Homo sapiens: one gene and its partners. The protein of the gene in region 2 purifies or fractionates together with the protein of the main gene of each other region. This does not show direct contact. Each region holds a gene or a part of one and is shown on either strand. Other genes may lie near its edges. The genes, in order: BLK, GLYR1, H1-4 and SERPINA12.

What was found.
Region 1: the proteins of GLYR1 (region 2) and BLK purify together in Homo sapiens (affinity purification with mass spectrometry; 2 studies listed by BioGRID and IntAct, with this or other methods). This does not show direct contact.
Region 3: the proteins of GLYR1 (region 2) and H1-4 purify together in Homo sapiens (affinity purification with mass spectrometry; 2 studies listed by BioGRID and IntAct, with this or other methods). This does not show direct contact.
Region 4: the proteins of GLYR1 (region 2) and SERPINA12 purify together in Homo sapiens (affinity purification with mass spectrometry; 3 studies listed by BioGRID and IntAct, with this or other methods). This does not show direct contact.

The regions. Positions count from the first base shown.
Region 1 is NC_000008.11:11,497,345-11,504,386, reverse strand, and holds part of BLK (tyrosine-protein kinase Blk), read right to left. Parts: intron 1-7,042. UniProt on the Homo sapiens protein: Non-receptor tyrosine kinase involved in B-lymphocyte development, differentiation and signaling. B-cell receptor (BCR) signaling requires a tight regulation of several protein tyrosine kinases and phosphatases, and associated coreceptors.
Region 2 is NC_000016.10:4,844,261-4,851,393, reverse strand, and holds the start of GLYR1 (cytokine-like nuclear factor N-PAC), read left to right. Parts: upstream 1-4,105; 5' UTR 4,106-4,128; coding exon 4,129-4,166; intron 4,167-5,183; coding exon 5,184-5,220; intron 5,221-6,240; coding exon 6,241-6,320; intron 6,321-7,133. UniProt on the Homo sapiens protein: Cytokine-like nuclear factor with chromatin gene reader activity involved in chromatin modification and regulation of gene expression. Acts as a nucleosome-destabilizing factor that is recruited to genes during transcriptional activation.
Region 3 is NC_000006.12:26,151,457-26,157,642, reverse strand, and holds H1-4 (histone H1.4), read right to left. Parts: upstream 1,315-6,186; 5' UTR 1,253-1,314; coding exon 593-1,252; 3' UTR 528-592; downstream 1-527. UniProt on the Homo sapiens protein: Histone H1 protein binds to linker DNA between nucleosomes forming the macromolecular structure known as the chromatin fiber. Histones H1 are necessary for the condensation of nucleosome chains into higher-order structured fibers.
Region 4 is NC_000014.9:94,486,779-94,492,469, reverse strand, and holds the end of SERPINA12 (serpin A12 precursor), read left to right. Parts: intron 1-2,702; coding exon 2,703-2,850; intron 2,851-4,975; coding exon 4,976-5,167; 3' UTR 5,168-5,191; downstream 5,192-5,691. UniProt on the Homo sapiens protein: Adipokine that modulates insulin action by specifically inhibiting its target protease KLK7 in white adipose tissues.

The DNA of each region.
Region 1 (7,042 bases), on a different chromosome or scaffold from region 2:
CTTTTCTTTTCTTTTCTTTCTTCCTTCCTTCCTTCCTTCCTTCCTCCCTTCCTTTCTTTATTTTGAGATGGAATCTCGCTCTGTTGCTCAAGCTGGAGTGCAATGGTGCGATCTCAGCTCACTGCAACCTTTGCCTCCTTGGGTTCAAGCAATTCTCCTACCTCAGCCTCCTGAGTAGCTGGGATTACAGTCGCACACCACCACACCCAGCTAATTTTTGCATTTTGAGTAGAGACAGTTTCGCCATGTTGGCCAGACCAGTCTCAAACTCCTGACCTCAAGTGATCCGCCTGCCTCGGCCTCCCAAAGTACTGAGATTACAGGTGTGTGCCACTGTGCCTGGATGTGAATGGGATCTTTCTAAAGCCAGGACCTAAGCTCCAAGAAAGGCTGGGGAGACTTTAGCCCCAGGGTAGATCCCTTCATCTCCCGGCCAGGAGCCTCTCTGGGGGTAGTTTTGATTCCCACTTGCTAGTTCCCACAGGACACTTGTCTGGGTGGCAACGTGGAGTGCCGGAACCTGGAAAGATGCACTTGACCAGCAGGGGAGGGTGGAAGATGGCCCCTTTCACTGCGAGCCCAGGGCAGCCAGCAGCCTCAGCAGAGGTGAGGCCCAGGCAAGAAAGAGGACAGAGTGACCTCTTCCATCCTCCACACCTGCACATAGGAACCTCCAGTCTGGTGACCAAGAGAGCAGGTGTCTCCTTGCAAGTCTCAGCCCTCAGACCTTGCCAAGAAAGAGCACCCTTGCTTACTTCAGACAGCACACAGATCCCTGGTCCACGGCAGGAAATCACCCAGCCACATGCTCACACTGACCTGGTGGCAAAGGCCTCTCTGAAAAGGGTCACCCTGTATAAGGCTTGGGCACAGGATGGAGCAGAAAAAAATAGAGCATCTCACGTCCCACCTGACACAGGGGCAGGTGACAAAGCTGCACCTCTCCCTTTGGGAGTTACTAGTCGTCTGGGTGTGCCAGCACCCCCAGATCTTTCTGATCAGAGGAAACCAGATAAAAGCCATAAACGCACTTTGCAGAAGAGTGCCCACCTACACACAAGCTCCCATCCAAGATCAGGAGCTGACAGGCTACCAGGAGACTCATCAGAAGCCCAGGGGCTAGAAGGTCAGAACCAGCTTAATCTATTAAGTGCAGAACATCAAATGTCCTTTTAGATGCTACGTGTGGTTGTGTGCTTCACACATACACAAACATTCTCTGCACTTGAACAACCTCAAGCATCAGGGCCTCCTTCAGTTTTGCACCCCAGGTGTGTCTTTACCTCCCTCTGGTCCTGGCTCAGCATCCCAGGTATCAATCTGTGCAAAGAGGCCAGCAGAGAGTAGAGATGAGAAGGAGCCCAAGGGGACATCCTTGTATCCCATGGTTGTGGAAAACAGTAGCCGTTTTGCGAGTGGGGACTTGCGAACCCCACAGTGGCTGGCAGCAGCTGGTGTAGGGACATGACAGCCATGGGGACAGGTTCTCCATCCAGGCCCACAGGCCCACCCCCCTTCCCCTGCCACCGAGCACAAAGCAGGGTCACCCACCTGGGCCTCCGCTGTCAGGCTCGGGACTCAGGAGAGCCCAGGAGGCAAGTTATTCTCCACTTGTCCCCACTTGGCTGCAGGCAGGACCCTGATCTGCAGTGTGGCCTCAAGACACTCGGCCTCCCCGTCAGTGATGCACTGGGGGCCAGCTTGTGCCGGTATGCTAGAGCCGGTTGTTAAATTCTCAGGAATTTTGTGAGCTGAATTATTCAAATCATTATGCAAGATTAAGGTATAAAAACTATACGGGCCGGGCGTGGTGGCTCATGTCTGTAATCCCAGCAGTTTGGGAGGCCGAACTGGGCAGATCACTTGAGGTCAGGAGTTCAAGACCAGCCTGGCTAACTCTACTTAAAATACAAAAATTAGCCAGGCATGGTGGCGGGTGCCTGTAATCCCAGCTAATTGGGAGGATGAGGCAGGAGAATCCCTTAAACCCAGGAGGTGGAAGTTGCAGTGACCAGAGATCGTGCCACTGCACTGCAGCCTGGGCAACAGAGTAAGACTCCTTCTCAAAGAAAAATAAAAAAGAAAGAAAAAGAAAAAAAAACTATATAAAATTAAAATGATAAAAAATTAAAGTTGAATTATACAAGATACAACTAAATGGATTCTATTAAAACAAAGGTTATAAATACTTAAACCTCATCACTTCCTGATTATTTTTACTGCATCTTAATAATAGCTATGCTTTGAGGTTCTTTAACTGACTGTGTCTATAAGGCGGAAGTACTCTATCGTGCTGTGCTGCTGCGCATCTCGAACCCATGTTCACGCAAGTCATGTTAGCAACTTGAAATTGGCCCTGGTGGGAGTATTTATACAACAGGAACAGGCAAATGCTACAGGTCGGCAGTGATTTGTTTCATGGATTTTCTATGCTTAAAAGAGCATCTTGTCTGTAGCTAGAACACTGTGAGTAGCACAAAACATTGAGGAAACTTTTCTGAATATTGAAAAACTACTACCCAGTTCAACAAAGAAGCCGCTCATGGCACTAAGGCTGCAGCCTGCCCCAACTCTTTGTTGTTTCACTTTGATCTGCTCCTTAACATGAATGAACATTTCAGTGTTTGTGCCAACACCACACTTGCTCATCTGCTGCAACCAATGCTTGGCTACGGATATGACAGTGCAAAGTCACGAGAGCTTTCTATGAGACTCAATCACCTCTGCGGTATTTAGGACAGAGACTATTGCATATTTTGTTATTATTTGTAAATTAAGTGCTACGCATCCTTTATATCAGTACATGTTACTATAAACTTATGTATGTATACAATACATTTGTTTCCTGGAAAGCTGGTTGTTAAACGTTTACCAGGACGCCATGCTCTTCATCTACAAGATGCCTATCTTGACCTCACACTTCCCCCAGTGTGCTGGCAGGTGCCAGAGAGCCCATCAGATAGACAGACAGACAGACACCACAAAGTAGAAATGATTCCTTTCCATGCTAATGTGTTAAAAAAAAAAAAAAGAGAGAGAGTTTAGCCTTTCCCATAAAGCACCAAATAAAATCAAGAAAATGGGCTATGACTTTTGACCCTATTTTCGTGTGTAATACTTTTTAAAGGATCCTTTTATTTATTCAAATAAAATAGTAAATAAAATTAAAAGTATCATTTAATTTTTAATTTTTTTCACTCTGTCGTCCAAGCTGGAGTGCAGCGGCAGTCTCAGCTCACTGCTGAGATCTCCTGGGTTCAAGCAATTCTCCTGCCTCAGCCTTCTGAGTAGCTGGGATTACAGGTGCCTGCCACCATGCCCAGCTAATTTTTGTATTTTTGGTAGAGATGGGGTTTCACCATGTTGGCCAGGCTGGTCTCGAACCCCTGACCTCAAGCAATCCTCCCACCTTGGCCTCCCAAAGTGCTGGGATTACAGGTGTGAGCCACCACGCCTGGCCAAAATAAAAAGTATTATTTAACTTTATGTAAAAATCCAATTGCACCACAGAAATGGCAGGAATAAAAGAATCTTAAAATGAAATAATTTATATAAACTTTAACATAAAAGGTAGAGCCAGGCATGGTCACTCATGCCTGTAATCCCAGCACTTTGGGAGGCTGAGGCAGGCAGATTGCTTGAGCTCAGGAGGTTGAGACCAGCCTAGACAACATGGTAAAAACCCATCTCTACAAAAACCAAAATTAGCCAGGCGTGGTGGTGCACACCTGTGGTCCCAACTACTTGGGAGGCTGAGGTGGGAGGATTGCCTGAGCTGGGGAAGTGGAGGCTGCAGTGAGCCATGATTACACCACTGCACTCCAGCCTGGGAGGCAGAGCGAGACCCTATCTCAAACAAACAAAAACAAAATAAAACAAAACAAAAAAACAGGCCAGGTGCAGTGGTTTATGCTTGTAATCCCAACACTTTGGGAGGCCAAGGCAGGCAGATCACTTGAGGTCCAGAGTTTGAGACCAGCCTGGCCAACATGATGAAACCCTGTCTCTATCAAAAAAATACAAAAATTAGCAGGGCGTGGTGGTGCACACCTGTAGTCCTAGCTACTCGGGAGGCTGAGGTGGGAGAGTTGCTTGAACCCGGGAGGCGGAGGATGTAGTGAGCTGAGATCAAACCATTGCACTCCAGCCTGGGCAACAGAGTGAGACCTTGTCTCAAACAACAACAACAAAAACAAACACCCCCCAAATCAATCTAAGGTGGAATATGTGTAAAAATAAGCTATTTCTATAACTGTAATAGACTCACAGCTGGACATTTGACTGCAGGTTGGCTCCCTCAGTGAATTTTTCTGTTTTGTACACAGATAGGGAACTAATCCTTAGTGAGCACCCTCACTGTATATCAGGCTCTTTCAGAAATGCTGTCCTGCTTGTATTTGTTTATATATTCATTTCCTAGTGTTTCCAGAAAAGATTTGAGACCGCTTATAAAAATACATACAATACAACAGGATAGAAAAACAGATAAAGAAATTAGACCAAAGGGTAAGTTAGGGCAGAAAAAAAAATGTGTATAAAGCTGGTGCACAGAAATACAAACTGTGACATGCTGTCACCAAACTGCTAGTGGTTAGATGCAAATTGGGTTCTAAGTGTCCTGGAGTCCAAGCACAAAGAAGAAAATAATCAGTTTGAAGAGTCACAGTGTCTGTAAGACATCCATTGCTCCAGAGAGGCATGGATTTCCTGGATCTGGAGTCTGAGAGTCATCCTCTCTGGGCTTCTCCTGTGGAGGTCCTGGGTGGAATGCGAACAGCTTAACGTCATCTCAGCAATAAATTCCACTGTGAGTTTCCAACCTCTGTTTCTTATGCAGCCTTCAGCACAAGCCACGGCAGTGTACCCATGCCAAGAAAGAATGCCCACATCTGACTCAGGAAATGAGATTCTCTCAGGATCTCAAGCACTGTGAGATCCAAACACACAGCTCTTGGACTGACTATCTGGATACAGGGGAAGTTCCCAAAATATAGTTACGTATTGCTTCACTACAGGGATCTGTTCTGAAAAATGTGTCATTAGGTGATTTTGTTGTTCTGCGAACATCGTATACAAAACTTAGATGGTAGAGCCTACTCCACCCCTAGGCTCTGTGGCATAGCCGGTTGCTTCTAGGCTACACACCTACACAGCCTGCGACTGTACTAAATACTGCAGGCAGTAGTAACACAGTGGTGAATATTTGTGTCTCTAAACATAGAACAGGTACAGGCAAAATACAGTGTCTTCATCTTATGAGACCACCATCATATATGTAGTCTGTGATTGACCGAAATCTTATGTGCCCTGTGACTGTGTCTAGGTTCATGGCTCTCAATCTTACTAAATTTACTTTCTCTTTTGAGAAACAACAACACCATGCTCTCCTTTGTGAGGTTTCAAAATGAATATTGGGCATAAAAGTAAATCAAAGAAGTTGTCATGTAAGATGTGTCTTTTTGAAGTACAAGGACCCCCTGGTGGTTCTGACATTGAGAATTGAGTGCACCCTGTAAGAAAAGTTGTGTGCTCCTCAGCTTCAACTCACCTAAAAATTAGGGCTTTGTAATTTAATTCTGTTAATCCTGTGATGTGCTATTATCAATGAATGAAGAAATAAGACTGAGAGGATATAATTAACCTACCCGAGACAGGTAAGGCTGCTCGTATACAGTGGGGTCAAACTATTATCATCTCAGGAAGGCACACAGTGACTTGCTCACATTGCCAGGGCTGAACCTTGCACTGGAGCCCTCTGGTTGACAAGGCCAGCCGTCTAACCACTACACTGCAGGACGAGACCACTCAGATGTGGCTGCTTTGTCTGACTTCTATGTCCAAGTCCTTTCCACTTCCTCATATCCACAACACGCTGAGAGAGAAAATTAAAGTAGTCTTCCTAGATATTTGACTGTGTGATTCCAAATATTTTGGGGTTCACAGACCCCTTTGGGAATCTGACAAAAACTGTAAGTACCCACCTACACAAAAGCTTGTTTACAAGTTCACGGAGCTCAGAGCACCAGGAAACTCATCAGGAATCCACAGACTCAATGCTCAGAACCCACTTCATCTATTAAGCACAGAACCTCAAATGCCCTTATAGACACCACATGGCATTGTGCGTTTCACACATACACAAACTTTTCCTGCACTTGAACGACCTGAGCATGGGAGCCTCCTTACATTTTGCATCCCAGGTGTGTCTTGTTTGCCTCCCACTGGTCCAGGTTCAGCATCCTAGGTGCCAAAGTGTGCAAAAAGGCCAGCAGCTAGTTGTGATGAGAAGGAACGTGAGAAAACTTCCTTGATTACAATGTGGAAAGCACCAGCGCTTTGATGAAGGGGTTGCACAAGCCCCACAGTGGACAAGGAGGAGCCTCGTCTATGTCTTGGGCTCTGGACCCCCATTCCGTGGTTCTGTTCAGTTCTCATGTCTGTGCTTGAGAGTGGGTGCAACTGCTCCCACTTCACACTCCCAGCTGGCAGGTGCAGAGCCAGACTGACCTGGCTGGCAGGAAGCCCCAATGCTTTCATCTATACCACACTGTCTTACAGGAAGTGGAATGTGCCAGAGGCCTCAGATGCCTCTTCTCTTTCTTCCAAGGGTCCTGTCAAAACCCCAGCATGCTGATGGCACTGGGGTGCACCACGATTAGGGATGATCATTCAATTATCTTTGCTTTTCCTCTTTCAAGCTTTCATCCTCATGTCTTAACCTTGATTTTCATTTAAGGTTTTGCCCTTGTGTCTTTAACTCAAGAACCACTTTACCAGATACCCCTGGTGGGCCAGGCACTGCGCTGGGTGCTGGGACCTGGAGGCACATGTAGGGCATGTCCTTGTCCTCAGGAGCTTTGGTCCAGAGAACCTGGCAGGCCTGCAAACCAGAGCCCTGGGTGTGTGCTGGTGGTTGCTGGGGACACACAAATGGGCTTGGGCACTGTGACTGGGAGGAGACATTCGCACCTGCCCTGGACGTCAGAGCAAATGCAAGTTGCCTAGGTGGGAAGGTGGGGAAGGGATTCAGGCAAGCAGGAGC
Region 2 (7,133 bases):
ACTGAGGCCTCAACCTCCCAAGCTAAAGCGATCCTCCTACCTCAGCCTCCCTAGTAGTTGGAACTACAGGCGTGCTAATTTTTGTATTTTTTGTAGGGACGTTGTTTTGCCATGTTGCCCAGACTGGTTTTGAACTCCTGCTGGGATTACAGGTGTGAGCCACTGAGCCCAGCCTATATGGTCATTTATAGATATTTTTTCACATTTACTTCATTAACCCCAGATGAATTTGCTATGCTATAAAGTATGAGGAGAGGCTGTAACTTGGTTTCTTCCAGCATCAATCACTAAACAATCCTTCCTTCCTCTGCTGATTTGGCATATATTGCAAAGCAACATCACAGATATCTAAGGCCTGTTTCTGAAGTCCATGTGTCATATTAATACGGTATTTAGAGATTCTTTAATCAGTATTGCACTGTTTTGTAAAGTTTCATACTTTAATGTTGCAAAGTTAAAGCTCATGTTTATTATCCTTCTTTATAAATAATACTTTGCCATTCCAGCCTATGTATTATTTTGGCAGGTTTCAAAAAAACTCACTGTATTTTGGTTGTAAATCAATCACAAATGTGAGTTAATTCAGGAAAATTAGCATATATCGTATATATCCACATACATGTAGACGTATTTGTATATATCCAATATTCATTTGTCGAATTATGATCACAAAATCAACTTATAACATCACATAAGGGAACAAAATATCTACAAATGAAGAGTTAAAATAATTCTAATCAGGCGGCAAAACGATTAGCAGTGTAACAGGCTGGCGCTGCAAAAGACCATCTCCCAACACGTACTAAGATGTTAAAGGAGATTTCCCTAAAAGAAATCTCCAAGGCCCTCAGGATATTTGTGATGCGCTGGGTTGTGGAAATAAATCCCAGCTGAAGGCTTACAGATTCCCCCACTGATAGAACCGGAACAGTCTCACTATAAGAAGGGAATCAGCAAGTTAACCAATGGGATGCAGGAAGGTCATCCTTGAATTGGCAACCAGGTCCTACTCCCCCTGTCCAGGCAGTAAACACATAACCTTATCTCAGTCCAAGTCTGAGAGACTGCAGCTTCAATCCTAGATGGCAAAACTGCTCCTTTCAGTTGCTTAAGTGACTCTCCAGGCCCAAGAAGGTAAAAAATAGGACTACAGGATAAAGTGAGTCAAATCTGTACTCTATTACCACTTAGATTTGGGGTTGTTTTATAATCATTATAATGTTCTGCTGTTACTAAGCCATTTGAAACATTTAAGAGAATCCAATATATTTAACAATGGTACGTTAGACTTACAATCATAATTCAAAATGCTTAAGAAAATATAATTAAGTTCAAACATGTTTGAATGCTTAAAAAAAACTTACATTTATCTATTAGACTTACGAGAGTTGCCTAAGTCCTTGGAAAGATTTTAGCTTTTTTTGTGGTTTTTTTTTTTTTTTTTGTGAGACAGTTGCCTCACTCCTGTTGCCCAGGCTGGAGTGCAGTGGCACCATGAGAGCTCACTGCAGCCTCAACTTCCCGGACCCAGCACTTTGGGAGGCTAAGGCAGGATGATCGCTGGAGCCTAGGAGTTTAAGACCAGCCTGGACAACATGATGAGACTTCATCTGCACAAAAAAATTTTTTTTAAATTAGCCAGGTATGGTGGCACACCCCTGTAGTCTTGGCTACTAAGGAGGCTGAGGTGGGAGGATGGCTTTAGACTGGGAAGGTCCAGGCTGCAGTGAGCCGTGATCCTGCCACTGCACTCCAGCCTGGGCGACAAGAGTGAAACTCCGTCTCAAACAAAAAAAAGAAAAAAACAAAGATCCCCCTTTAAAAACCTCAGTTGGTGTTACTGAGAAAATACTAGCCTTCCTTGTCCCTTGGTTATCCTCAGCAATTTTTAATTTTTTCTTACTATATATATATATATCTCCTTCTAAACATTGTATTTTCAAACTGGTTATTGATGAAACAGAAAAACTAAATTGTGCATTCCAACTTATAATGAGTACCCTTCCTGAATTCTTATTTTAATGGGTTTTTTGGTTTTTGTTTTTGTTTTCAAAATAGGCAGACCTATCATCCACGGAAATGAGAATTCTGTCTTCCCTTTTCCAAAAATTGCATTTCTTATTTTTGTTTCCTGTCTTACTGCACTGGCTAGAACTTTCAGGTTTTAGGCAATATATTCTTATTATCTAATAGTGGTAGAAATGTACCATGTTTCTGATGTTAAGGGGAATGCCTCTAGGTTTTGGTGCAATGTTCATTTGAGATTTTTTTTTCTTTTTTCTTTTTGGCGGGGGGACGAGTCTCGCTCGCTCTGTCGCCTAGCTGGAGTGCAGTGACATAATCTCGGCTCACGGCAACCTCCGCTTCCCGGGTTAAGCGATTCTCCTGCCTCAGCCTCCCAAGTAGCTGGGACTACAGGCATGCGCCACCACGCCCGGCTAATTTTGTATTTTTAGTAGAGTACTGGGTTTGACCGTGTTGGCCAGGCTGGTCTCGAACTCCTGATCTCAGGTGGTCCACCCGCCTCGGCATCCCAAAATGCTGGGATTACAGGCTTATACCACCCTGCCCGGCCAAGATTCATGTTTTTATTTAAGTTATTAAAATCTCATTCAATTCCTCACAAATTCAGAATTTTTAAACAGGAACTTATGTTAAATTTTTATCAAATTATTCCCTGGAATCTTAAATACGCTTTAAAGATCACTTTGTCTTAAAAATACACACGCAGTAAATGACAGTCCGTGCAGCTAATTCTTGGTACTTCAGGGAAACTGATCTCCCAAGAAAAATCAGGCTGCGGGACGACCCAGTACGCTAAACACCGACTTGCAACCGAAATCTCTAACCACCACAATGCCTTGGGGAAATGCGTGTCGACTCGCCACCTTTGCCAGCTGGCAGTGACTCAACAAGAGCCCGACACCAAGTCTAAGTCAATCCTTAACACTGTGGAGTCTGTGATCGGGACTGGGATCTTTTGCAAAATTGTGATTCTACCTGGTCTGCTGAAGTTTGGGCCGACGCTGCGCTCAACTGCAGTTAACACTTCCCAGTTCATGGTTCAGTTTTAAAGTGTCCAAACTACGCCCGGCATCTGTCTTCCTGTTGTCACAACTTTTTCAAAAGTGCAAAACTAGGGCAAGGCTAACGAGAGAGCCCGGACCCGACAACGACACGCACCTTTGTCCCCAGCGCCGACGCGGGCCGCAGACGTCCCCCCGCGGCGGTCCTCATGCCGGTCCCCGGGCGGCGGCGCAGCTAGCGGTCGGCTGCTAAGCCGTGGCTCCCAGCGGGCGGGCGGCCCGCGCCTCGGCCCATGGCCGGGTCCCCGAGCCCAGGGGAGCCTGGTGTGCCGCGCCGCGCGCCGGCCCAGGAGGAAGCGAAGAAATGCCAACTCGACGTCCGCGCAGCCACTCCGGGGACACCAGGGGGTCGGGGGAGCAGCCTCCGGTCGCCCCAGGAGAACTTGCGGCGCGGGACCCCGCGCTCAGACGGCGCCTCCGAAAGCGGCCGTCGGGAGGAGCGCTCCAAAGAACACGGGCGGCGGGAGCGGACGGGCGCGGACACCGGGGCCTCCCGGCCTGCGGCCAAGCAGAGTTGCCGGGCGCGGGAGCCCAGACCCGGCGGAGGCTGAGTTCCAGGCCGCGCCGAGCTCCGTCAGGGTAGCTCACTGGCGCTGCGACGGGGCCGACCAGCGCCTCGGGCTCGGGAATGGCCCCGGGGCCCGCGCCGGACCAACGGGCGTAACGGAAGCGCCGAGAGGGGAGGGGCGCGGAGTCCAAGACCCGGGGGCGGGGCGAGCCGCGAGGCCGGCTCCCTCTCGCGCTCAGCCGGTCGCACCGTCGCCGCCGCCGCCGCCTCAGACCGCGGGCGCTTCGTTGTCACGAGCCGAAGGGAGGGGGAAGGAGCCGGGAGTCTCTGCGCTCCGGCGCGCGGAGACCGCGGCGCTCGCGTCACGTGCCCCTCGGTCGACCAATGATCCCCGGCGGGCGCGGTGACGTCAGAGTAGCGGCGTGGCCAGTGACAGCCGGCCCCCGTCACGTGGTCGGGCCCACTCCAATGGGCGGCGCCGGGGCGACTTGCTGTTCCCGGCGGCCCGTGCGTCGGCGGTGGTTGGGTGGTAAGATGGCGGCTGTGAGTCTGCGGCTCGGCGACTTGGTGTGGTGAGTCCGAGCGGCCGGGCCAACCGAGACGCGCCGGGGAGCTACCCGCCTGGGCGCGGGGTTCGCTGCCGGCCCTGGAGCTGCCTTTTTATGCGCTCCAGGTCGCGGAGAGAGGGGAAGAGAAGGTGCCGGCGCTTGCGAGCGGCGCCAGGCGGAAGGGGCAGTCCAGTCCCGGGGGACCGAGGCCGAGGGTGGCCACGTCGGGCACCGGCTTTGATCCCCGAGGCCGGCCGGGTGGGGTCTGCACTCGGGGCCCAGATACTGGCGGCCCCCGTGAAGGGAGCCGCCGGTGCCGCGAGGCTTCCCCGGACGACCGGTCCCCGGGGTCTTGTTGGGGCTTCCCAGAAAGCAGAAGCGCCGGGGACCGGACCTGCGAGATCTGGCCGGTGCCATTCGGTCAAAGCCCAGGTTGCGATGCAGCCGACCTGTGCGGCCGGCTCAGCCGGGGTTGTCTAAACCGGACTGCTGGCGTTGCCCCGCGAAGAAACGGCGGGGGGACTTCTCCTTTACAACCGATGGCTTGGCAGTGACCAGTGCACGCTTGGGTGCCTCCCGCGGTCTGCTTCTGTGTCCCAGACAACCGCCCGAACCAAGACTTTGTCGCCGCCTCCCTCGAGCTGCGTAGCTTGTTTCTCCACCCAGAGGAAGGCTTCCATTAGCATTTGTCAAAGCCAGGCAGGTCTCCTGTTGAATTAAACCAGACTTAGGGAGGGAAAGTCTGTGTTTACAGAGGAAGCTGTCCTCCCACCCCCGTCATTAAGAAGCTCTAGACAAGTGACTTTTGACAGTTGTGTTGTTCTGTATTCCTTGTCAACAGAAGAATGGATATGCGTTGTGCACATAAGTATACAATTTTGCATTTTACTTCTGAGGGTGTTGGGCCCAGCTATGAAAGCTTTTGTTTCGGCATTTGAGGATGCCAGCAGAGATTTAGGAAAATAAATTGCGTATTGAGTGGGTTGAAGGAGATGGACTGGCTTTTGCAGGGCAAGTGTTGACTCTTTGTGTTTTCTCTAGGGGGAAACTCGGCCGATATCCTCCTTGGCCAGGAAAGGTGAGTGTCTTGCTACTAAAGGAAGAGATCTGAAGTTGGGTTTGAAGAGGTGGAGAATGTAAGATGCATTCCTCTCAGTTTCTAGTATTGAGTTAAATTGGGCTCATTCAGATGGCACTTAGAATTTTTTTTCCCCTAGTATCGGTTATTTTTTAAAAGGCAATGCAGTATACACCAGATCATTAAATCTTCTCTAAACCCTTATTTCTGGATTTAGAGGAGGTTTATGAAGTTTCTTTTTTAACCCCGGAAATAATTCTAGTCTGAATTTAGCTTTATGCTTAAATGTAACAAAAGGAGAAGAAAATATAAATTATCCAGGAAGAAAGTCTAAATGTAGGTTAGTGAAAAGCCAAAGTATTTTTGTCCCAACTAAGTTTAAATCTTCTTTCCATGTTACCATATGTGCTACTCCAGTGCCTCTTTGCAGAAGTTGGCATTCCAGATTTTGCATGAGGTGATCCATCATTGCTTTCCAAATGTTGTGTTTTTATATTCTTGCTTGGAGCCCGGGAGGTGTCTTTAGATGGTCTCTTTGCAATATGGTGTTTTCTGTGCCTCGGTTGTCCTTTGTTTTCACTATGTCCTGTGTCAACCCTTCCTGCACAGGAAGTATTTCAAAGAGTGTCGTCTGCATTTTTTCAGTAATAATGGGGTCACATTGGAGCAGGGGTGGGGTGGTGGGGGGCAGGGGATGCTGTTGATCTTAGTTTTAACTGCTTGTAAAACAGGGCCACTGCAGTAAAAGGGATATTGTGTCTACTGAGCACTGTGCTACATGTTAAATATTGGGAACTTCTAGAATATCTACACATTTCCATACACCTCAATAGAAAAATGGGAGATTTAGACAAGTACTAGGCCTTGGGTTCTGTTTTGTATATAAATAAATTTATTTGTAAGTAAGTCCTTTTAATTTACTTTTTTCTTAGCAACGTAGAACTGTAGAGCAATGTGGAGCCACTAGAAAGTGGGCTGCTGTGTTGCCAGCCAACCTTTTTCCCCCCTTTTATCCTCCAGATTGTTAATCCACCAAAGGACTTGAAGAAACCTCGCGGAAAGAAATGCTTCTTTGTGAAATTTTTTGGAACAGAAGATCAGTGAGTAGTACTCACCAGGAGTCTCCCTTCGCCTTTCTTTCTGTGTTACCTGGAGTCTGAGCTGCTTTGAAAATATTCTAAGGATCCTTAGTTCAGTCTTCTTATAATGTGTAATACTGGCATCTCATTCTGCCTTCATACCTAAATAAAGGTGCAATTTCTTGCAGAAATTGCCCTAGACAACTGTCCTAGGTCTATAACTAAGTCAGGCAAGAACTAGGTTCATTTACCTTCTAACTATAACAATCACATTGAAACAGTTTCTCACATGTTTCTTTACCCAACTCCAAAGGCAGTTCCTTTTTGTTTGTTTTTGAGACAGAGACTTAGTCTGTCACCCAGCCTGGAGTGCAGAGGCAGTCTCAGTTCACCGCAACCTCTGCCTCACTGACTCAAGCGGTTCTCTCACCTCAGCCTCCCGAGTAGCTGGGACCACAGGTGTGCACCACCATGCCCAGCTAATTTTTTGTAGAGGGGGTTTTACCATGTTGCCCAGGATGTTCTTGAACTCCTGGACTCAAGCAATCCACCTGCCTTGGCCTCCCAAAGTGCTGGATTATAGGCGTGAGCCACTGCGCCCAGCTGGCAATTATTTTTATAAAAGCCATGTTCAGTTCTCTTTTAATGCCATATATCATTATGGTTCATGCTTGGGGTATACAGTGGAAACTTTTATTTATGTTAATAAAAGTAATTGTTCAATCATGTTCTCATGTGTAAAACTAAGTGATTTGCTTTGACATTGTTATAGTAAGTCTTTTTACCAGATCTGTCCTAAGTTGGGGAAACCAGGACCATTAATCTGAGACTCTG
Region 3 (6,186 bases), on a different chromosome or scaffold from region 2:
TCTGCAGTGTCGGTTTCTAATTTTCAGTTATGTGGCAGTAGTCTCCCCAAGCACTTGAAATGTAGCCCTTCGGAAATAATGTCAGTACTATGCCACTTGTCCTAAGACGTACTCCTCTGAAGTCCCTCACTGCCTGCCATACTCGATAGGGATAACCAGTAGGCTTGTAACCAGCACAGAAACTGATACACTGTGCCGTGTTTGGAACTCGGAAAAACCCAGCTTAGAAACCCGGGAAAATCCCAACATTTTTTTTCCCATGCTATCTGGAGGCCAGGGCCTGCTAAAAGTGCAAAGCACAAGGGAGGCCCAAATGGGTTCAACTCCGACACTCGAGAACGCAAAATCGAGATGACGCCACTGCACTCCGGCTTGGGCGACGCGACGCCTTAGTCAAAAATAGCTCCGGAGACACACAAAATCCCACTCCTCTCCCCGACTTTGTTCCCGGGAGACCCGCCCCTGCTTAGCAGCGTTTTCCCGAGCCACGCCCCCTAATAGTGCAACAGCTCTTTTACTGAGAGCGGTGGGTGGCTCTGAAAAGAGCCTTTGGGTTGTGTTGGGCTTCTAAGCAGTTGGCCAAAGGAACTTTCTACTTTTTCTTGGCTGCCGCCTTCTTTGGCTTGGCTGCCTTGGGCTTGGCGGTCTTTGGTTTAGCCGCCTTGGGTTTAACTGCTTTGGCCTTCGCTGGGCTCTTGGGCGCCTTTTTTGGCTTGGCTGCTTTCGCCTTTTTCGGGCTTTTCGCTTTTTTGGCTCCAGCAGCTGCAGCCGGCTTCTTCGCCTTCTTTGGGGTCTTCTTGGCGCTCTTCTTGGGGGTGGCCGCCCCCGTCGCCTTCTTGGGCTTCTTCGCCGCTCCTGCTGGCTTCTTGGCCTTGGCCGCGCCTGCCTTTTTAGCCTTAGGCTTGGCTTCCCCAGAGGCCGCCTTCTTGTTGAGTTTGAAGGAACCCGACGCGCCGGTGCCCTTGGTCTGCACCAGGGTGCCCTTGCTCACCAGGCTCTTGAGACCCAGCTTGATGCGGCTGTTGTTCTTCTCCACGTCATAGCCAGCGGCTGCCAGCGCTTTCTTGAGAGCGGCCAAAGATACGCCGCTGCGCTCCTTGGAGGCGGCAACAGCTTTAGTAATGAGCTCGGACACCGGGGGCCCAGACGCTTTGCGCTTGGCCGCACCTGCAGACTTGCGGGCCTTCTTCTTCACGGGAGTCTTCTCGGCAGGGGCCGGAGCAGCGGGCGCGGCAGGCGCAGTCTCGGACATGTTGAAGGCAAGCGTGAGCGAGAGCAATTCGAGCCGGAAGCAGAGGCACTGGCCGGGACTCGAGCCGCGGCGCTGCGCCCGCCCGTTTATATAGGGCGGAGCTGCGCCGTGATTGGTGCGCTGTCCAGCCCGCCTCGCTGGCAGCCGCAGAGTGTCCTCTCGGATCCCGAGTTGTGTTTGTTACACCTCAAAAAAAGCCAAAAATATAAAAATTGTCTACACCGAACTGCCCGGTTTTTCTCAGATAATGATCCCCGAACCCTCAGGCTTCACGCAGATCTCAAATTATAAGGGAAGCACAAAGCCTTGTGCCAAAAACTTGCAATATTTCCCGCCGTGCTTGGCAAATTTCAACTCAGAGAAACAAAACTTTCTATTTTCTTCGTAAATTATAAACCGATCTTTAACTGTGGACTTTTCTGACCTCTCAAATATGATACTCCAAGTGGTTAGCTTCTTATATATCCAAAAAGCATGCCACTGGCATTAAGATTTTTATTACAAATCTGCACTTAAGTGAGGGAAGTAACACAGGCTCCTCGGAGAGTCCTGCCTATTGAGCCGAGGGCATTTGAGTTCATCAAACTGGTTTAGTTTAATGCCAAACAAATTATTGCCCATTTGAGATTAAGTTTTGGACCCCTGGGACATCAATCTATACAGCCATGGTTTTACATCTGTCCGCTACATCTGAGTTTTTAAACAATTCTTTGGATAATTCTTTCCCTTTCTGCTCCCAAGGGTTGGGGGCGGGGCTGTTGCTTCTCTCTTCCTCTGGACAATTGCTCCATGGATTGAGATACCTTGAATTCAGGGTATTTGGGAACGAAGGGAAGTCCAAAATGTACTCAGGGTACAGAGATGAAAAAGGATTAATTTTCAAATGTGATGTTCATAAAGTCACTGGAAGTGGAGGTGCACTTTACTTTAAAGCATTTGTCTGCAGCCTTGCTGAGTGCTTTTGGCATATGCTTCAGAACCAAATTGCAATAAAGTAGCTTAGAGCTGAAATTCAAGCATTGATGATAAGGCAAAATAAATAAGAAACGTAGATTGAAACATCTACTCCCATTATTAGTGAAACCCAGCCCCTATTATTACTGAATAGTTGAGGAATGACTAGTCCACTCACCACGTATGGTTTCAATCCCCCTGAAGATTGTATTCCAATGCTTCCCAGAGCTCAATAGAAAGAAAAATAAGTGACATGTAGTGATTAAACGACAAGTTCAAATTTCGATCTCAGAAGTAGAGCTTTGAGAGTCTATCTAAGCTATTATAAATCATTGCCCTCTGAAAACATCCTTTGAACAATGTCTGAGTGAATTTCTTTAGGTAGTTGCCCAATCAAGAAGAGTGTATGTAAGCTGGCAATGAAAGCCCAACCAAAAGAATTATTTCTGGTCCGGGCGCGGTGGCTCACGCCTGTAATCCCAGCACTTTGGGAGGCCGAGACGGGCGGATCACGAGGTCAGGAGATCAAGACCATCCTGGCTAACACGGTGAAACCCTGTATCTACTAAAAGTACAAAAAATTAGCCGGGTGCGGTGGCGGGCGCCTGCAGTCCCAGCTACTCGGGAGACTGAGGCAGGAGAATGGCGTGAACCCGGGAGGCGGAGCTTGCAGTGAGCCTAGATAGTGCCACTGCAGTCAGGCCTAGGCGAAAGAGCAAGACTCCGTCTCAAAAAAAAAAAAAAAAAGAATTTTTTCTGAAAAACGATATGGCTGGAACAGTATGGGTGGAACTACAAGCCACTTATCATGGAAACAAAATAAAATTTTGCCCAGTGCTATAAGGTGATATGATACTGTTCTGTGGACGTGGTTGATTGTAATATGGCGTTGGATATCATTTTAAATTTTAATTTCATTGCCCAAAATCTCCAGACACAAATTCTGCTACTGAAATAAGGAGAATATAGAATTTTGATATAACACGAGTGAAATGTATCAAAACAGTACTGTTTAATGTTGAATTTGTTATAAAAGTGATGTAAATTATCAATGTTTTTAATATCTTGATGTGTATTTTCAATCTAATTATTGCACATCAGTGCAAAAATAAATATGCCCTTTGGTATTTATTGAAATAAAAAGGGAGATGGATAAATCTCCAAAACAGACTAGGGAAACTGATTATATGGGCATTTGATTCCAGAATGGTAATATTATACCTATTTAATGACAACAAAAACCACTCCTGTAAATGACTGAAACTTACACAACACATGGAAGTTTGCTTTCACATGCCTCACTTTATCCAGTGTATTCCTCATGGCTAGGAAGGAGTTAAACTCTCCAAATTCTGTGGTCTTTCAACTTCCACTGCTTGCCTCCTTAAGGTGTGGTGTGTTTTCTTTACTTTACTTTTCTTTTCTTTTTTTGAGACAGAGTCTCACTGTGTCACCCAGGCTGGAGTGCAATGGCGCGATCTTGGTTCACTGCAACCACTGCCTCTGCCTCCAAATGCATGGGCTGGGAGAGGTGGCTCACGCCGGTAATCCTAGCACTTTGAGATGCTGAGGCGAATGGATGACTTGAGATCAGGAGTCCGAGGCCAGCCTGACCAACAAGGTGAAACCCCATCTCTGCTAAAATAAAATAATAATAATAATAATAATAATAATAATAATAATAGTTAGGTGTGGTGGTGTAATCCCAGCTACTCGGGAGGCTGAGGCAGGAAAAGCCCTTGAACCAGGAAGGCGGAGGTTGCAGTGAACGTGCTCTCGAGCCTTGGTGACAGAGATTGAGGATTGACCACTATGAAATCAAGCATCTATTTGACACTTGTCGGTGATGAAATAGGAACAATAACAAAAGGCCTTACTTTCTTATTGGTCAGCGGGCTGGCTATCTCAGAACTAGGCGTGTGTGCACACACACATGTTCATGCATGTGTTCTATTTTTTATTTTGTTATTATTTTTTTGAGATGGAGTTTCGCTCTTGTCACCGAGGCTAGAGTGCAATCAATGGAGCGATTTCTGCTCACTGCAAAGTCCACTTCCCGGGTTCAAGCGATTCTCCTGTCTCAGCCGCCCAAGTAGCTGGGATTACAGGTGCCCGCCACCACACCCAGCTAATTTTTGTATTTTTAGTAGAGACAGGGTTTCACCATGTTGGTCAGGCTGGTCTCCAACTCCTGATATCAGGTGATCCACCCGCCTCGGCCTCCCAAACTGCTGGGATTACAGGTATGAACCACCCAGTCATGCATGTGTTTTAAACATAGATTCTGAGGCCTTGCTCAAGATTATTCTGACATAATAACTCTTCAGTAGGTCCTCAGAATCTGAATATTTATCAGTTTTCTCATGCCACTCTTATGCCGAGCCAAGTTTGGCAACTCTGCTGAACTCACTAGAGATGACCAATAGGGCAAATGTGCTTCCTGTCACGTGAGTTCTCCCAGGGATTTCTGGGCGTGTCTGTGAGATCTTAGAAAAGATATCCATGCTGAATATGACCATATATTGGAAAGACGGGGACAGCATTAGTCCAATCTTGACTTCCTTTGATTCACACCTGGCTGGCCACTATAGTGGGCTGAAGAAGGAGAAAGGAGAGTAACTAAAGTTAAGCATCCAATGAGTCATTATTTTCCAACCACAGAAGGTAGACTGAACCTTGGCTGCTTATGGACTACTTGAATCCTCTAGTACAGCATCTACATTCCTTATCCATTTTATCATTTTTAATGATAGTCATCCTTCCCATTTGTTGGCTACTGTACTACATGCTATCTGAAATTTTTTTTCCCCCACAACTGGGCTGCAGCCTGAGTTACCTGCATTCTTACTTAGTCAGTGTAACAATCCTCTGTTATGGATAGTATTTCTACTTTACAAAGTAGGAAATGGACATGCAGAGGTTAACAAGTTCTCTTGAGAAAACTGTTGGTAAGAGGTACATTGCAGATTCCAGCACACGTTGGTTTTACTTCAAAGCATGTATGCTTATTAAACAGTGTTTTCTCAAACTACAGGTCTGAACAAGCATGAAAAGTTGTGAAATCAGTTTAGTTGTCAAGGACAAAATATTTCTCTTTTTAGTGAAATAGAATAGAATATAAAATACCAGTTTTCGTTGCATGTAGTTTTAGTTATATACACAAATCTTGGTGTGTTAGGCCCCTTAGTAAAAGACATTTCTACTGTGCCTGTTCACATGTCCACAGTATGTCTTCCTTGTGCAATTTCTTGAGCTTTTATAGTCATAAAATATTATCAAGTATGTTATTCTTTAATGAGCTAAGAAAGTAATTTGATATCATTGACATTTTTAAAGTCTCTAAGGTACCCTGAGTGGTGGAAAATGGGGGACACTCTAATTGTTTTTATTTTGGACATGATAGCAGTAATATGCAGCTACAAATATGACTATGAACTAAGGGGAACAATGTGATTTGCAGAAAAGTTGAAATAAAAGAGAAGATTGTGCTTGGTTGCTTTTACCTCACAGTTCTGCAGTCAAAGAGCTTAATTCTGAATTTCTGTATTTTAATATGATGTTACCATGATTGTTTCATTAAAGATAGAGTTTGGAAAAGAGGTGCTTTATGCTAGACAGATGGACTATATAGTATCTTCAACATTGTTTCCTTTTTACTTAAGTCAATAATTAACACTGTGGTTTGCACACCCATGGTTATTCATCACAGCAATGTTTGGAATTATAAAATATTTCAAAAAACTTTAATGCCCCACATAAGAGAGTGGTTGGATAAAGTAGGATGCATTTACACAGTGCAGTAATATGCAGCTACAAAAATGACTAAGATCTCTATGAACTAGTATCAATTCCAGGATATACATTTAAGTGATAAGGCAAAGTCCAAAAGAATATACTTAATATAATGACCTTTGCTGAGAAAGAAGGGAGTATAAGAAAACAGACAATTTTCTATTCATTTGTGCAAAAGAAATATAGAA
Region 4 (5,691 bases), on a different chromosome or scaffold from region 2:
ATGCAAGAAGACAAAGCAGGTGTCTGCCTTCTGTGCAGGCAGGCCTGTATGGCTTGTGCTGGCCTGCAGGAAATCTCAATGCTATTATTTTTCCCAACATAAAAGCTTCTCTTGACCTCTGCTTTCCCCCAGTTATTCCTCCATTTCGTCACTCCCCCTTTGCAGGTGAATACCATGAAGCAGTTGCCTCTGTTCACAGCCCCTAGTTCCTCTCATCCTCTCCTAAATCCACTCCAGTCCAGCTTCTGCACCCACTTCTCACAGAAAGCTCCCTTCCCAGGGTCCCAAGGGTGTCTGTGTTGCAGAGTGCAGTCAGTCTCAGGCCTCGCTCTTCGGCTGGTTTCTGTCCCCACCTCCTTAAGGCACTCTTCATTTGGCTTCCAGCTCTCCACTCTCACATCACCTCCCACCTCTCCCCTCCTCAATCTCCTTTGCTGGAGACCCCTCTCCTCCTCCAGGTCTCAGAGGTGAGTGTCTCAGGGCTCAGTTCCCAGCCTTCTTTTCTGTCTATACTTACCCCTGAGTGAGCTCACAGGCTAAGAGCTTTAAACACCATCTCTATTACCACGACTGCCATGCTTCCATCCCCAGCCCCTGTTCTCCCCCAAATTCCAGAGTCGTGGATCTTTCTGTTTACCCAGAATGTCCCCAGGATGTGTAATTGGAGCTTAGTGTCAACACATCCAGAATGACTTCCTGATCTGTCCCCAGAGAACCTCCCCAAGCCTGCCCATCTCAATCAGTGGTGACTCCATCTTTTTAGTTGCTCAAGCCAAAAACCTTGGAGTCACCCTGACCACCCTCAAATGCCTCATTCAGTCTGTCAGGAAACTCCTTTAGCCTACAGCAAACCACATCTGGAATTTGGTATCTTTCCGCCGTCTCTGTGGCTCCCAACATGTGACTACCACACTAGCTTCCAAATGGTCTCCCAGCATCAATTTTTGCCCATCCCCACTACACACACCACCACCACCAAGAGTATATTCTTAACAGAGGCAACAGAATGATCCTTTTAAATCCTAAGCAAGACTATGTCACTCCTCTGTTCAAAACCCGACAGTGACTCCCCATTTTATTCAGGAAAAAAAACCCCAATTTGTCTAACTCTCTTGCCTGCCTCAAGGTTTGCTCAAACTTTGGACCAATCCTCGATTCCTGCAAGTCAATCTATTTATTTTTTTCCATAGCACTTACTGCCTTCTGCATACCGCTAGTACATGTATGTAGGCTTAAGTGGTACTTTTTGTTGTGTTGATTCTATCACCTGTCTTCCCTGCTAGAACACACAGTCAGGGGCAGGGATCTTTGCCTGCTCTGTTCATAGATGCATCTCCAGCACCTAGAACAGCACCTGGTATACAGTAGAGATTTAATAAATGTTTGTTGAGTGAATGAATGAGTGGAAAGGTAAATTTGGGAGTCGTTGGGCCTGTTGATGATATTCAAAGCTGTGAGACTGAATGACATGTATGGGGATGGAGTGAAGGTGGAAAAGAGAAGGGGACCAAGGTCTGAGCCTGGAAGCAGCAGTGTCACCGGTAGAGATGGGAGGGGTGGAGCCCGACAGGGGCAGGAGTGGTGGGGAAGGAGGAGAAGCCTCAAGGGGTGGACCTGGAATGCTTCACCTTGGAGAAAGGGATTACCATCACGTGCGGCTCACTGAGAGCTGGCTCTGGGACGTGGGGCTGGTTGTCAACGGTGACTCTGGAAAGAGTTGCTTCCATAAAAAGTTGAGGTCAAAGAGCCGACTGGAGTGGACTGAGGCAATTGTGGGAGGGAGTGGAGATAGCTGCTATAAAAGGAAGAAAAGAAATGAGCTGGAAGCTGGAGAGGCTATTCAGGGCCAAGAGAGATCTCTTGGTGTTAGTTTTTGAGGATAGGGTCACTCTAGCATGAGGCCTCCTCCAGAGGAGGATCAAAGGGGCACTGTTTAAGGATGATGCAGGAGAGAGAGGACACATAGGCAGGAATGAGATCCTTGGGTAGGTGGGAAAATAGGGTGCAAGGCCAGGTGAACGGGAATCCAGGGTCTGCAGGTACCTCAGGAGAGCCTGGGCCCCAGGCTCCGGGCAGGAGGCTGATCGCGGTTCAGCCACAGAGGATGTGAAGCTGCTAGTTGGAGGGCAGGAGGATGGGCACCTGCTACGCACCAACTGTCTGCTGAGTGCCTTGTCTGCATTTGCCTTAGCACCCCTAGTGTCCCGCAGGAGCGACGGTGATCATTTTCCTTCTCACACAAGTGACTTAGAGAGGGAAGGTCACAGAGCTCATGAGAGGCAGAGTGGATTTGAACTCAGTTCTGTCTACCTCCAGATTCTGGGTGCCTTGTTCCCTCCAGTGTCAGGTCTTCTGGGGTCAGGATGGGCTCAGGGCTCAGGCATGGCAGCGACTACAGTGTGGACATCATCAGTGACTGTGGCTGAAGGGGCTCTGAGACGGGGGAACTTGAGACTTGAGAACACTCCCTGTAGAGGGCTCTGGGGCAGGTGTGCTGGGAGGCAGGGACACGGTTCAGAGAGCTTATGGTGTTTTGAAACCAGGGTCCCAGGGTTAAGGAGCCCCTCCTCATTCTGTGGATGGAGAGAGATTGGAGACCTTTGGGGCTGGGAGGACACATGTTTCATTGGTCATGTATCCTGAGGCTTGCCCTGCAACACAACAGGACTTGACCACTCACCCTTGTCGTGTCAATTCCCCAGGGTCGTAGACGTGTCTGTACCCAGACTCCACATGACGGGCACCTTCGACCTGAAGAAGACTCTCTCCTACATAGGTGTCTCCAAAATCTTTGAGGAACATGGTGATCTCACCAAGATCGCCCCTCATCGCAGCCTGAAAGTGGGCGAGGTAAGCCTGCCTAGCCTGGACTCCACTCCCTGCAGCACAGGGGCCTTCCCCCAGCCGGGGCCAGAGCCAGGGTCACAGTGGCTGTCAGAGCCGAGACTCCACCCACCAGTCGGGGCGGGCATGAATGCAGCTGTGCCCCTTACCAACCCCGTGATCCTGGGCAAACCACATAACCTCCCCCAGCCTCATGCTTCCAGTCTTTAAAACTGCTGCTATTTTGGAAATCAATTCAATGTAGCAAACGTTGATCAAGGCCTGGAACAGTTATCAGGCCTAGAACTGGTCTAGGTCTAACCCAGACCCTCTCTCAAAGGCCACATCCGTCTTTCTTTCTTTCTTTTCTTTCTTTCTTTCTCTTTCTTTCTCTCTTTCTCTCTCTCTTTCTTTCCTCTTTCTCTCTCTCTTTCTCTCTTTCTTTCTTTTTCTTTCTCTGTCTCTCTCTCTCTTTTTTTCTTTCTTTCTTTCTTTCTCTCTCTCTCTCTCTCTTCCTTCCTTCCTTCCTTTCTTTCTTTTATTTTGTTTTTTGAAGGAGTCTTGCACTGTCACCCAGGCTGGAGTACAGTGGTGCGATCTCAGCTCACTGCAACCTCCACCTCCCAGGTTCAAGCAATTCTCCTGCCTCAGCCTCCCGAGTAGCTGGGATTACAGGCGCCCGCCACCATGCCCGGCTAATTTTTTTGTATTTTTAGTAGAGACAGGGTTTCACCATGTTGGCCAGGCTGGTCTCAAACTCCTGACCTCAGGTCATCCACCCACCTTGGCCTCCCAAAGTGCTGGGATTACAGGCGTGAGCCACCGCGCCCAAGGCCACATGTTTCATATGAGTTGGCATAAGCATATGCTGCATAGGAAGAGATGACCAAGCAAAGGGGCCTGTGGCCCCTGGCAAAGGTGAGCACCTGACTGTCTGGGGCAAGAAGAGAGCACCATATAGGTAGAGTCACCGGATTTAGCAGATTTCATACAGGATACCCAATTAAATTTGAATTTTAGATAAATGATGAATAATATTTTTAGTGCCAGTATGTTCAGAATATTTCACGGGACACACTTACACTAAAACATATTCATTGTTTATCTTGAATTCAAATTTCAGTGGATGTCCTGTATTTCACCTGGCAACCCTACTTTGGGGTTAAAAAGGCATTGAAGGAGGGGAAAGATTTCAACAAGCAGAGATGGGTGCGGGGATGGGTGCAGCAGTGTGGCCAAGGCTGGGGGTTTTTGGATATCATGGAGTAGTGGGTGGTGGGGATTGGGTGCTTAGTGGAGATAAAGTGGGAGGTTCAAGCCAGTCTGGGAAGGATCCAGCTTGCCAAGCTGAGCCCGCTGCTCTGAATCAGATGGCACAGATTCCACTGTATTTTTCACGTTGACATAAGAAACATAGTTACTAGAATTTTCTCACTTTTGAGCTTTCCTGCCACAGACTTCCCACAAACATTTAACACCAGCTCTGAAGGTCTTGTTGAGTTTAATGGCTCATTTCTTTCTGTAGTTACGTTTGCTGATAGCTGTGATTGTAACACAGGATACTGTCCTGTTTTCTGCAAGTAAAATTGTGAGAATTTTGTAGGCTAGCAAGAAATGTGCCAGGATTTCACACATGCCCGTTAGTTTCCCAGTACTGATCACCTGTTTACAGACGTTGATGCCTTTGGAGTGGATTTGGGATGCAAGTCATCTCAAAGAGCTAATCCAGAATCCTTCTCCCTCTTAACCATCCACCAGGTGGATGAAAGGAGGTGCTGGAGGCTTCAGGGTGGGGGTACCACCACCTCACTTTCACCCAGCTACAGCCCAGTAGACCTTTCTGCCACGGCTATGGTTGATGCTTCCCTGTAACCCATGAGAAAGAGAAGCAAACCCCACTCCATCTCTCCCCCCACCGACTCCCGTAACTGATGCTCCCCCTGCACCATCTTTTCCTTCACACGGCATCTGCTTGTCGAATATTCTCCAGCATTAATGGCGAAAGAGCCAGGAACCCTGGAGTAAACCAAGTTACTGCTGTGCTGGATGGCTTGGGCCAAGTGGTCTTCCTCTCTGATCCTCTCTGGGCCTCCGGCCCACTGTGGTCGCCAAGGAGCTTGGCAGACCTTGACTTTGCCCTTGGCTTCCGTAGGCTGTGCACAAGGCTGAGCTGAAGATGGATGAGAGGGGTACGGAAGGGGCCGCTGGCACCGGAGCACAGACTCTGCCCATGGAGACACCACTCGTCGTCAAGATAGACAAACCCTATCTGCTGCTGATTTACAGCGAGAAAATACCTTCCGTGCTCTTCCTGGGAAAGATTGTTAACCCTATTGGAAAATAAAGGAGAATTCCTGCTTGCCACAGACCCCGAACATGGCTTGGGGTTGAACATGTTCCATCTTCCTGAGATGGAAGTCACAGGCACATTTCAGTTTAGTCTCTCCCTGTCACCACCTCCCTAGACAGCCCGAATGAGCAAAACTGCAAGTTCTAGAAGTCCTGTGCCCCATTTCCTCCCTGCCCATTCAAATGCTGGGATGCAATGCCCCACCCCCGCCCACTTGGTGGCATTCTCCTCTCCCCTCCAGCGGGCAGAGGGACTCTGTGATTTAGTAAACAAATGTTTCTCCCCCACAGCCCTGCCCCAGGTTGACTGGCTGTTGGTGGATAATTTGGGGAAGGTATGGGCCACAGCAAGTACCTGGGGTCTCGAGTGAGAGACTGGGGTTCAAATCCTGGAATGAGGTATCTTTGGGAAAGCCACAAACCCTCTCTGAGTCTGTCTTCTTATTTCTGAAGTGAAGGTCCCGCCCCTCCCTTTGGGGCTCCAAGGAAGCTAGTTCAGTGCTTTAACAAAGTCGGTCC